Regions from separate parts of the Homo sapiens genome. Here region 2 is linked to region 1. Evidence: fine-mapped expression QTL. A gene starts in region 1. The other region holds a variant in brackets. All regions are shown on one strand. Distances are from middle to middle. Region 1 holds the start of ZBTB20-AS1 (ZBTB20 antisense RNA 1). Region 2 overlaps ZBTB20 (zinc finger and BTB domain containing 20).

The links. PIP is the estimated chance that this variant, and not a neighbour inherited with it, causes the effect.
Region 2: its variant is fine-mapped to the expression of ZBTB20-AS1 in whole blood (TOPMed, PIP 0.96).

Annotation. Positions count from the first base shown.
Region 1 is chr3:114,349,264-114,354,645 of GRCh38, reverse strand. ZBTB20-AS1 (ZBTB20 antisense RNA 1) reads right to left here and starts at 2,835. Exons shown (of 9, transcript NR_038993.1): 1 at 2,690-2,835. It overlaps ZBTB20 (zinc finger and BTB domain containing 20), which reads left to right. Exons shown (of 12, transcript NM_001348800.3): 11 at 2,768-4,372.
Region 2 is chr3:114,383,843-114,389,224 of GRCh38, reverse strand. ZBTB20 (zinc finger and BTB domain containing 20) reads left to right here. Exons shown (of 12, transcript NM_001348800.3): 8 at 120-220. It overlaps ZBTB20-AS1 (ZBTB20 antisense RNA 1), which reads right to left. Exons shown (of 9, transcript NR_038993.1): 8 at 1,646-1,802; 9 at 247-829. Among named protein-coding and RNA genes, the nearest start is that of ZBTB20-AS1, 35 kb to the right of the region's middle. The variant C/T (reference allele first, on the strand shown) is at 2,468.

The sequences.
Region 1 (5,382 bases):
TGTGCCACTGCACTCCAGCCTGGGCAACAGAGCAAGACTCTGTCAAAAAAAAAAAAAACAAACAAAACAAAACAAAAAAAAACCTGTTCAGAACACACATAGGATTGTTGTAAGGAATAAATGAGATGTTACATGTAAAAAAGTTGTATACACAGTCAAACACTACATGGATACTAATTATTGTGATAATTGTGATAGGGCTACTTCCCAGAATTATCTGAAAGAAAACTGTCATATATGACATCTCTAGTGTTATTGTTGTAACTAATGTTATGAGCAAATGTATGTTTAAAGAGTGTTTTCACTTGTGTAGAAAAAAATGTTGTAATAAATCCATCCTACACAGAGATGATCACAGACACAACCAGTTTTACTGCTTATTGTTTTACTTAAATGAAAGAGACCTTGGTTATAGTAAAATTGTATATAGAAAATCCTAAACCATAGTGCCAGTTAGTTGTCTTACTTCTTGCACTGTGACATCTAAAAAAATAAGTCCTTTAAGTTACACAACTGAGGCTATGTCAAAGCATCACAGCCTAAAAACATAAAAGCCACACTAAATCACGGATAGGTATAGAAGTAGCTGGAGGTAGTAGTGGACAAAGCCTTTCACACAGCTTTACAACAGAGCCGTGGATCCCTAAGGGCCAGACCTCAGTAAAGGGCAAACTATGCAATATAATGAAGCAGTTAAGAGGGTGAACTCTAGAGCCAGACTGCCTGGGTTTAAATGCCAGTCTACCAGCAATTGCCTGTGTGTACTTGAGCAAGTTTCTTAGTTTCTCTGGCCTCAGTTTCCTCATCTGTAAAATGGGAATAATATCATCTACTTCCCATGGTTGCTGTAAGATTAAATGAAATCATATACAGAAAGCAGTTAGAACTGTAACCCCTAAAAAATGTTATCTTGTGATTACTATCATGGTATGTATGTATGGCGAACTCAGCAAGAACTTGAAATTTGGTCTGCTGCTGATTGAGCTCCTGAACAGCCCTTCCTGGGTTATTTGTGCCTTCTTTTGGGGCCATATTTTGTGTTCACATGGTTACAGGGGATTTACCTTAATTCTTTAATCTGGCAAAGAGAACTTGTCTTATATAAGTAAAAACGATGGAATCTGTAGCCTAATACAATATTTTAGGCACATAACAGACCTGATAGAGTCAGAACGAGAAAGAATGCTCTTATACAAATTAGTGCAAATTGTATTATTGAACATTTATTAAGTTAAGCTCATACCATGTGAGGGTGATTGAGTGAAGCAAGGTAGAAACGCTCATTGAACTCAGAGTTTCCTGAACAAGTCTTCTATCGCAAGGTAGAGCGGAAAGAGTTTGAGGAGGTAGGCCTTCTTCCTATCTGCAGGCTGTTACCTCTCAGGTGGCTTCTCACAAGACAGAGAGATTTGGGTCCAGGCCAACAATCAGTGCTTGGGCCATTTGGTTTTGAAAGCCCACTTATTTCACTTTCCCAAGCTGATTGTTCAGTTGTAAAGGCAAGAATGGGGAATCTGATTGAAGAATTATTTGGAGGGGGATTCTCTAGAGCCATCTGAGAGATGAGCTAGAAAAATAGAAAAGCCCTAAGATCTACTGCTGTAGCCACCTGTTTTCTTTCTCATTCTGAATCCAAATCTTATCAATAGTATCCCTTGCCATAACAGCCTACGTTATAGGGTGGCGCTGGGTCAGGCTATCCGCAGCCTCCACATAGCTGTTGCCTTCCTCCTGGGAGCTGTTTAATACTTCCCTGTGGCAAGTACATAAAGCACCCTATTACCCAAGGAGATCATATATCCCACTTCTGGCTTACTCCTGCTATCCTGGCCTAATTATTAACAATGCTCTCTTTCACTCTTGAAAGTGCCCTGTTTGCATAATAAATATGATCACCAATGTACTGTAGTCTCCTGGGTCAGAACTGCCATCTCTGACCTTTTTAACATTCCTCCTTCATTAAGCCTCAGAAAATTCAGAAAACCTTCCATATCACATGCAACCACCCTAGAAAGTGCTCAAACAGGTTGTCAGAGATGACAAGAAGAATGAGTAGATACAGAAAGCAGCCATGGAGTGCCCCTTTAGCTAGCAGATTGCTTTCTGTAGCCCATCCATCATCCGGAAAGCATGATCATGACTGTTTGGTAGATATCTTAGTCTGGGTTGAATTTTCCAATAATTTTTGCATACATGGTGTGGGTTTTGATAATATGCCATATGACTTAATAGGAAGGGGGTTTATTTGTTAACTATGAATATGGTCACTGTGTATGAATAAAATAAGGGACTTTGATAAGTTGGGGGAAATGTAAACTTTCCCAAAGAATCTGGGCTTAGGCCTGTCTAAAGTGAAGGCAAAGTAAATAAATACATAAATAAAAATAAAGTGGAGGTTTAGTGTTCCATAAGAACAAGTCTTCCATTTGCCTTTCAGTTCTTTGCTGAAGCTGTAGGAATAGCAGGCAAACAAATCATCTGGTTATTAGGCCACTCTACCTCAGCCGAAGCTCTGGGGAGTTAATATGGATACCCAAAATGGCTGCGGCACTAAAGGCCGGAATTGGAGCAAAATTCAAGGTCCTTTTCCCTCAGGTCATCGTACCTACAGCTTGTATGCCGCAGCCTGTCCATCTCCCCACTTGCGTATGTAAGGGCAGTGCTTCTAGGAGCCATGAGCATTACTCACCTGAAACCTAGGTGTTAGGAATGCAACCAGCTAGATCTGACCCATGCCCTGTTTTGTGTCTGCGTTGACATGCTGCAGGTGACATCAGTTGCAAGGGGATGACCGAGCGCATTCACAGCATCAACCTTCACAACTTCAGCAATTCCGTGCTCGAGACCCTCAACGAGCAGCGCAACCGTGGCCACTTCTGTGACGTAACGGTGCGCATCCACGGGAGCATGCTGCGCGCACACCGCTGCGTGCTGGCAGCCGGCAGCCCCTTCTTCCAGGACAAACTGCTGCTTGGCTACAGCGACATCGAGATCCCGTCGGTGGTGTCAGTGCAGTCAGTGCAAAAGCTCATTGACTTCATGTACAGCGGCGTGCTACGGGTCTCGCAGTCGGAAGCTCTGCAGATCCTCACGGCCGCCAGCATCCTGCAGATCAAAACAGTCATCGACGAGTGCACGCGCATCGTGTCACAGAACGTGGGCGATGTGTTCCCGGGGATCCAGGACTCGGGCCAGGACACGCCGCGGGGCACTCCCGAGTCAGGCACGTCAGGCCAGAGCAGCGACACGGAGTCGGGCTACCTGCAGAGCCACCCACAGCACAGCGTGGACAGGATCTACTCGGCACTCTACGCGTGCTCCATGCAGAATGGCAGCGGCGAGCGCTCTTTTTACAGCGGCGCAGTGGTCAGCCACCACGAGACTGCGCTCGGCCTGCCCCGCGACCACCACATGGAAGACCCCAGCTGGATCACACGCATCCATGAGCGCTCGCAGCAGATGGAGCGCTACCTGTCCACCACCCCCGAGACCACGCACTGCCGCAAGCAGCCCCGGCCTGTGCGCATCCAGACCCTAGTGGGCAACATCCACATCAAGCAGGAGATGGAGGACGATTACGACTACTACGGGCAGCAAAGGGTGCAGATCCTGGAACGCAACGAATCCGAGGAGTGCACGGAAGACACAGACCAGGCCGAGGGCACCGAGAGTGAGCCCAAAGGTGAAAGCTTCGACTCGGGCGTCAGCTCCTCCATAGGCACCGAGCCTGACTCGGTGGAGCAGCAGTTTGGGCCTGGGGCGGCGCGGGACAGCCAGGCTGAACCCACCCAACCCGAGCAGGCTGCAGAAGCCCCCGCTGAGGGTGGTCCGCAGACAAACCAGCTAGAAACAGGTGCTTCCTCTCCGGAGAGAAGCAATGAAGTGGAGATGGACAGCACTGTTATCACTGTCAGCAACAGCTCCGACAAGAGCGTCCTACAACAGCCTTCGGTCAACACGTCCATCGGGCAGCCATTGCCAAGTACCCAGCTCTACTTACGCCAGACAGAAACCCTCACCAGCAACCTGAGGATGCCTCTGACCTTGACCAGCAACACGCAGGTCATTGGCACAGCTGGCAACACCTACCTGCCAGCCCTCTTCACTACCCAGCCCGCGGGCAGTGGCCCCAAGCCTTTCCTCTTCAGCCTGCCACAGCCCCTGGCAGGCCAGCAGACCCAGTTTGTGACAGTGTCCCAGCCCGGTCTGTCGACCTTTACTGCACAGCTGCCAGCGCCACAGCCCCTGGCCTCATCCGCAGGCCACAGCACAGCCAGTGGGCAAGGCGAAAAAAAGCCTTATGAGTGCACTCTCTGCAACAAGACTTTCACCGCCAAACAGAACTACGTCAAGCACATGTTCGTACACACAGGTGAGTGTCACCCCACCTGGAGGCCTGGCAGCAGGGGCTGAGGGGGCTGTGGGAAGGCAAGGTAAGAGAGCAGGTAGAAGGGAAGGTTTGGGATCATCTTTCAGATTTTAAACAGACCCCACCACAAGCCTCTTCTAGAAACCCCAACTGTGTTCCTCCCATCATAAGAACAAAGCACCCTGCCACCAAGAGACACCGTCACAGGAACCCTTTATGGAGAAGGGATGTCCTAGGGATGTCCAGACTGCAGAAGAGAAGACTCAGGTCATTATATAAGCCATATTCAAGTATTTGTGTTTCAGAGGCAGCATACTGTAGTCAGGAAGAGCTTGAGCTCTTACACCCAGCCAGATGGCCTGGGTGTAAATTCAGGCTTAGCTACTACTAAACCTTGTCGCCTTGGAAAAATTACTTAACTTGTCTATACTTCAGTTTCCTTGTGTATAAAATGAGAATAATCGTGATACGCCTTCCTTATAGTGCTGTTTTGAGAATAAATTAATACATGTGAAGTCTTTAGAGTACTTCCAAGCATATAATAAGTGCTCTATAAGTGGTAGCTATTATTAAGATGGTTAAGAGGAGGAGACATTCAGTTTGTATAGTTTGGCTCCAAAAGGTGGAACTAGACCAATGATTGGATGCTATCAGGAGATCCTTTCCACAAAATAAAAGAAAAATTTTGTTAACAATCAGATCTGCTCTAATATCAGATAGACTGCCTTTAAATGGAGTGAGTTTCTGTAATTAGACGCATTCAAGGAGAGAATGGATGAACATTTTTAGGGATTTTGTACACAGGATTCAGTCATCAAGATGGGCAAGATCATGTTTCATCCCTGGATTCTATGATTCCAGAGCTAAGATCTTCTGATCTCTCAGCCAATCCTTTTTCATAGCTCCATAGTGGTACAGAGATATGGAATTCCCATAGAATTGGGCATTCCATGGATGTGCCTCCATATAAGTGAGCACATAAGCGATTGTGATGTCACCTAGATTCTCTTGGA
Region 2 (5,382 bases), 35 kb before region 1:
AGAACCAAACAACCAACCTCTCACTCAAGTCCCAAAGTTCTTTCCTATCAAAATAAATAATTGCCATCACCATCACCTGTTCATTTAACAACCTTATTTTTGTTTTTTGTCTGATCTAGATGCAGCCGCTCTCTGCTCCCTGCCCCAATGAACATCTGCACTAGGCCCAAGCCTTGGAGTAATTTACCTGAAGAGTGACACCATTGATTTTGAAACTACTGTGAGTACATTATGTCTCCAATAAAAGGCTTCTTAGTTCACTTTGTTTAATACACACACACACACACAGAAAATTGTGAAAGCAGGCAAAATTTTAGATGGCTTCATTTCTTGGATCAGCAGGGTAACCAGACTCAGTCCTGAGGTGCCCACAGCGGTTCTCAACTTCCCGGCTGCAGTGCACACCATGTGCATTATCATTCCCTCCTGGCCAGATGGCTGTGCTGAGCTGTATCTGAGCACACCTTGCAGGGACTGGTGCTGTTCTGCTTGGTCATCTGTGCCTCTATGTACGGTGGTGGCAGCTTCTCCTAATCTGTTTGCTTCTCATCATCCTTCCGTGCCACTGTTGAATCTCATGGTAGCTTGTCATTTCTTGCCACCCTGGTCAAATCTGTGACCAGCAGCTTTGCTTGGTTTTATTTACCTGTTGTCTGAGCTGCAACCCATGCTGTTGTCTCCTTGCTGCCCTTCCCTTGGAGCTCTGGCCTCCTTCCACCACATCTCTAAGCCACTTGTATCCAGCTCACCTCTGCTCTCTGGATGTATGGGTCTGTGTAGTTGATTTAGTTCCCGCCATGCAAGGCATTTATGTAGGAGAAGTAGAGACCTTGCAAGGAAAAGTACAGAAATAATTTGGGGTAGGGGATATGATACCTATGGGAAAATACTGATGAAAGTTTGATATCAAGTATTCATTAATCATTGCTGAAATAACAGATGAATATATGCTATTTTCCAATAGAAAAGCCAGTCATTTGAATTATTTAGAAGTTCTGCATGCAAAGTAACTTAATTACACATTTTAAAACAATAACTAGTTGTTATATTCACAAGTTTTCCTATATGTTATGAGGCAGGTAATGGGATGGTGTTTTACAGACTTCTATGTTACTGGAAAACGCTAAACCTGGGAGACTAACATCCCTCTTAGGCTTCAGGTAGGATATTTACATTCATATTTCTATGTCTTTAGCTATTCTGGTATAAATCAAACCTAAAGGGATGAAGCCAGAGTTTTGCTTTATTTTGTGTTGCTTTTTTACCTTTAATGCTTCCAGTCAACTGAATCATAGTTGATGGGGGCTGCTGTGTAGGTGATAGACAGGCCTGCCTTTCCCGGAGGGGAATGTGTTCTATAGTACTAATAGGACTGAGTTACTGGGGACTAAAGACATGACAGAAGATCAAACATAGTTTCTTCAGTCCACACCCACACAAGGAACTTACTTGTATATACCTTCATTCATCCTTAAGTTCAAGTGCAAGGAATACCCGAGAAATTCCCACATCTGGATAGTTTTCTGAGTTTTTCTTCATCACAGAGTAACTATGCTGATACAGATAACACAGCCTTACTATGATGCAGATGGGTTTAAAAGTTTCTATATCCTTTAAGAGGGAAAAGAGTTCTTATCACTCTTACCTTCCTGTGCTACAGAGAACCCAGATCCAGACCTAGAAATCAGGAGCTGATGTTGCCTACAGATTACAGAGAAGTCCACAAGTGAGCATGTATTCCTGTCGTAGGAAGTATTTCATCTGTGCAGAATGCCAGTGCCTGCTTTTACTTCTCATGGGCCCTAGAGAATGGACAGACTGGGTTATAATCTTTGCAGTCTTTGCTATTCAGAAACTTGGCTTTCCAATGCATAAAAGAGAAATAATAATAATAAAACAGAAACTTGCTAGGTGCAAAAATCAATAAAGAGGATAAAAAATTAAAATGTGAATCATTTACAGAAGTATATCTCTTCTGGTGGGTTGACAATGCTTCGGGCCTAGTCACAAGGCTTGGAAGTGGGTTGGGGAGGCACATATTAAATTTTAATACCTACCCACCCCCCCCATACCACCTGCACAATAATGCTCAGTGGCCCTGCCTACTTAACCAGATTATTGTGATAAGTCAATGAGATGATATATATATAAAGTCTGTCACGGCAGAGGTGAGTATATTTACTCAGTCATTTAAAATTTGCTGACCATTTACTATGTGCCAGACACTGTTCTAGGAACTAGGAATATGGCAGCAAGCAAAACAAACAAAAATCCCTGCTCGGCTGAGCAGCATTCTCTTTTCTTGCTCTGTGAATGGCAATTCGACATAATAGGTACATGGAAGCTAAGACAGAACCTATTTTATTTTGTTCTGTCTTTCCTTCCAGAAAGTATAATTGAAAGTATAAGAGAGAAGAACACATATGTTGATTAGTCTTGCCACCCCATTCTACCCCCAAAAAAACCC[C/T]AGAACCATTCTTTTGCCCTGATGTGTGACCCAGAAGACTGGCCTTCTGGACTACATTACCCAGGCTCTCTTGTCCTTGGGCTTCCCTTTGAATTTGGCCAAAAGGAGACATCAGCAGGAGATGTGAAAGTGGGGGAAGAGAGAGGTCAGGAAATGTGTTAGTTCAGCCCTCCTTCCCAACTCCAATTCTGACTGGACTCAGAATTCATCACCATTTTACTTGCCCCTTCAGTTTAAATGGTTTAAAGCTTTCCACTACTGCTAGTACCTGGCAGTCTCTACTATTGCTAGTACCTGGTGCTATCTCTCTTGAGGTCCCTTAACCTCATCTGCAGCTCCAAATACAGTTTTTTCATTAAATCCTCTTTAGCTAAAAACTTTGCATGTGCCATCTATTTTTGCCAGGATCCTGACTGATACAGTTAAGAGGAAATTATACTGAAAAAAAAATTATAAATCAGCCCTGCCAAGGTTAAAAAAAATAAGATTGAGAAAATAAAATGTGTTTAATCACTAAAATATCTTAAATTGATGTGAGGACATCAGACCAGGTAGAGAAATGATAAATTGCAAGAAAACACGATAAGCCAGAGTCCCATAGGTTGGTCTCAATGAATAGACCATAGTGTCCAGGCTTGATGGGCTTCTATAGGCTAAGTGCAGCTTGCTCAACCCTCAGCTTCAAGGAGCTCATGGTGTAGTGTAGCCACAGCAATGACAAACATGTGAGCAGAAAGGAGATGTCAGGAAGTATACAGCAAGATCAAATGTTGAGGAAGAGATTGCTGGTCCTAACATTGTTTCTGCCTTTGCTACAATAACAATCCATTTGCCCCTACCCAAAATCTAGATATCTAAACAGATTACTGAAATGAAGGGAAATGTCTTCTTTTTCTTTTGTTTTTTTCTTGCTCCAGGCTGCAGTGCAGTGGCGCCATCTCGGCTCACTGCAACCTCTGCACTCCCGGGTTCAAGCAATTCTCCTGCCTCAGCCTCCTGAGTAGCTGGGACTACAGGCATGCACCACCATGCCCAGCTAATTTTTGAATTTTTGGTAGAGACAGGATTTCACCATGTTGGCCAGGATTGTCTCGATCACTTGACCTCGTGATCCGCCCGCCTCGACTTCCCAAAGTACTGGGATTACAGGCATGAGCTACCACCCCTTGCCCGGAAATGTCTTCTTAAAGCTAACATGATGAATATCACAGAACTAACAATCCCTATGAGAGGAACTACCATTATTGAGCTCTTACCATGTGCCAGCACAAGGCAAATCACTTTACATGGCTTATCTCATTTGTTCCTCACAATAACCCTAAGCGGTAGGTATTATTATTCCCATTTTACAGATGAGGAAAATGAGGCTCAGAGATGCGGAGTAATCTACCCAGGACATACAGCTAATAGGTAGTGGAGCGCAGTTCCGCTACCACCCTTATTGGGGTGGTTTGTTACCACCTACCCTTTCTCTCCTGCCCAGATACTAAGCCTATTTAATGTATTGTTGGGGAAAAGAGTAGGGAAATTGTTACGACTCCAGTAAGATTGGGGGAGGCATCACTGGTCTAAATTATCATGAGCCAATAGGAGGTTCCAACTAATTTTTTCCTATCTGATAAGTAACAGGCACATTACTTACCAGATAGGAAAAGACCAAGCTGATAAGTAAAAGGCACATTAACGTGCAAGAGAGGGTGGGAGCCCAGTGAAGAGAGAAAATTGGGATAGGGTGAAAGAAGAGAGCACTCTCAACACCCTGGAGACTGCTAAGAGCTCACACAGATAAAATATTTATTTTTCCATATGTTGCAGAAAGCATTGCCATCACTGTATGTGTGCAATATGTGCAAAAGAGTGTGAAATATATACATCAAATGCCGCCGATCTGGTTAATTTCCATGCATTTAACATGCTTAATACCTACCATATCATCAATATGTTTTAATGCATATTTCTTTCCACATACAATATGGTCTAGTTAGGAAAGAGCCAACATCCTCCACAGCCTTACTCACTGCTATGTTTCAGCCTAAAACTTCTTGCTGGGGCCAGCACAATGAGAGTTAAAAACCAGAAGGCTCTGCTGGCTAACTCGGCCGCCAGTCTCCTTAAAACACACTCCCAATTCTTGAAGCAGCCTTTTCTCATAACAGAAATGTTTGCAGTGAGGAGATGAAAATGTTTTTGTTCTCCTTGGACAATTGAGAGATGTTCAGTCAGAATGTCAGAACTGACCGTTGAAAGGCGGGTGCCTGCGGCCACGCTTTTTTGCCTTTTTTTTTTTTCTTTTTTTGAATGCAGAGCTCCACCAGTGTGGCGGGAGGAAGTGCACAATGATTGGTCTGTTTCTCTGTGGAAGTGTTCAGGGTACACCCAGTTTTGCTTTGCATATATTTGCGAAACATCTGCCCTTTTCTTATTCTTAAGTCCTTCCCTGTCACCAGCCCCCTTTTCCTTTTTCCCTGGTTTCTTTCTTTGTTGTTGTTGGCTTGTCTAACTTTTTCATTGGAGCTTTCATTTTCCGGTTGAGGGGCGACTTCATCAGAGTGTATAATTTTAACAGAGAGAGAGGAGGAAGGGGTTGGAGAGAGAGAGAGAGAGAAAATGAGAGAGAGAGAGAGAGAATGAGAGAGAGAGAGAGAGAGAGAGAGAGAATGAGAACTGAAAAGAAAGAGACTGAGAGGCCAGAGCCTGGCAAATCAACCTTTGGCATGGTGACCAGGAGGAAGGTTCTGGTCGGGAGTTCGCCTCTCTGAAATCCGCTGGAGTCAGCCAGTGTGCTGCTGCCCTCTAAAGGCTCCAGGGAATAGTGCATCGCCACAGAGGCTTGAAAAGACTTGCCCTCAGATGTGCCATGTTTATAATTCTTTTTATACAGCCTCAAAATGTATTTTCAACTAATTATGACAGGG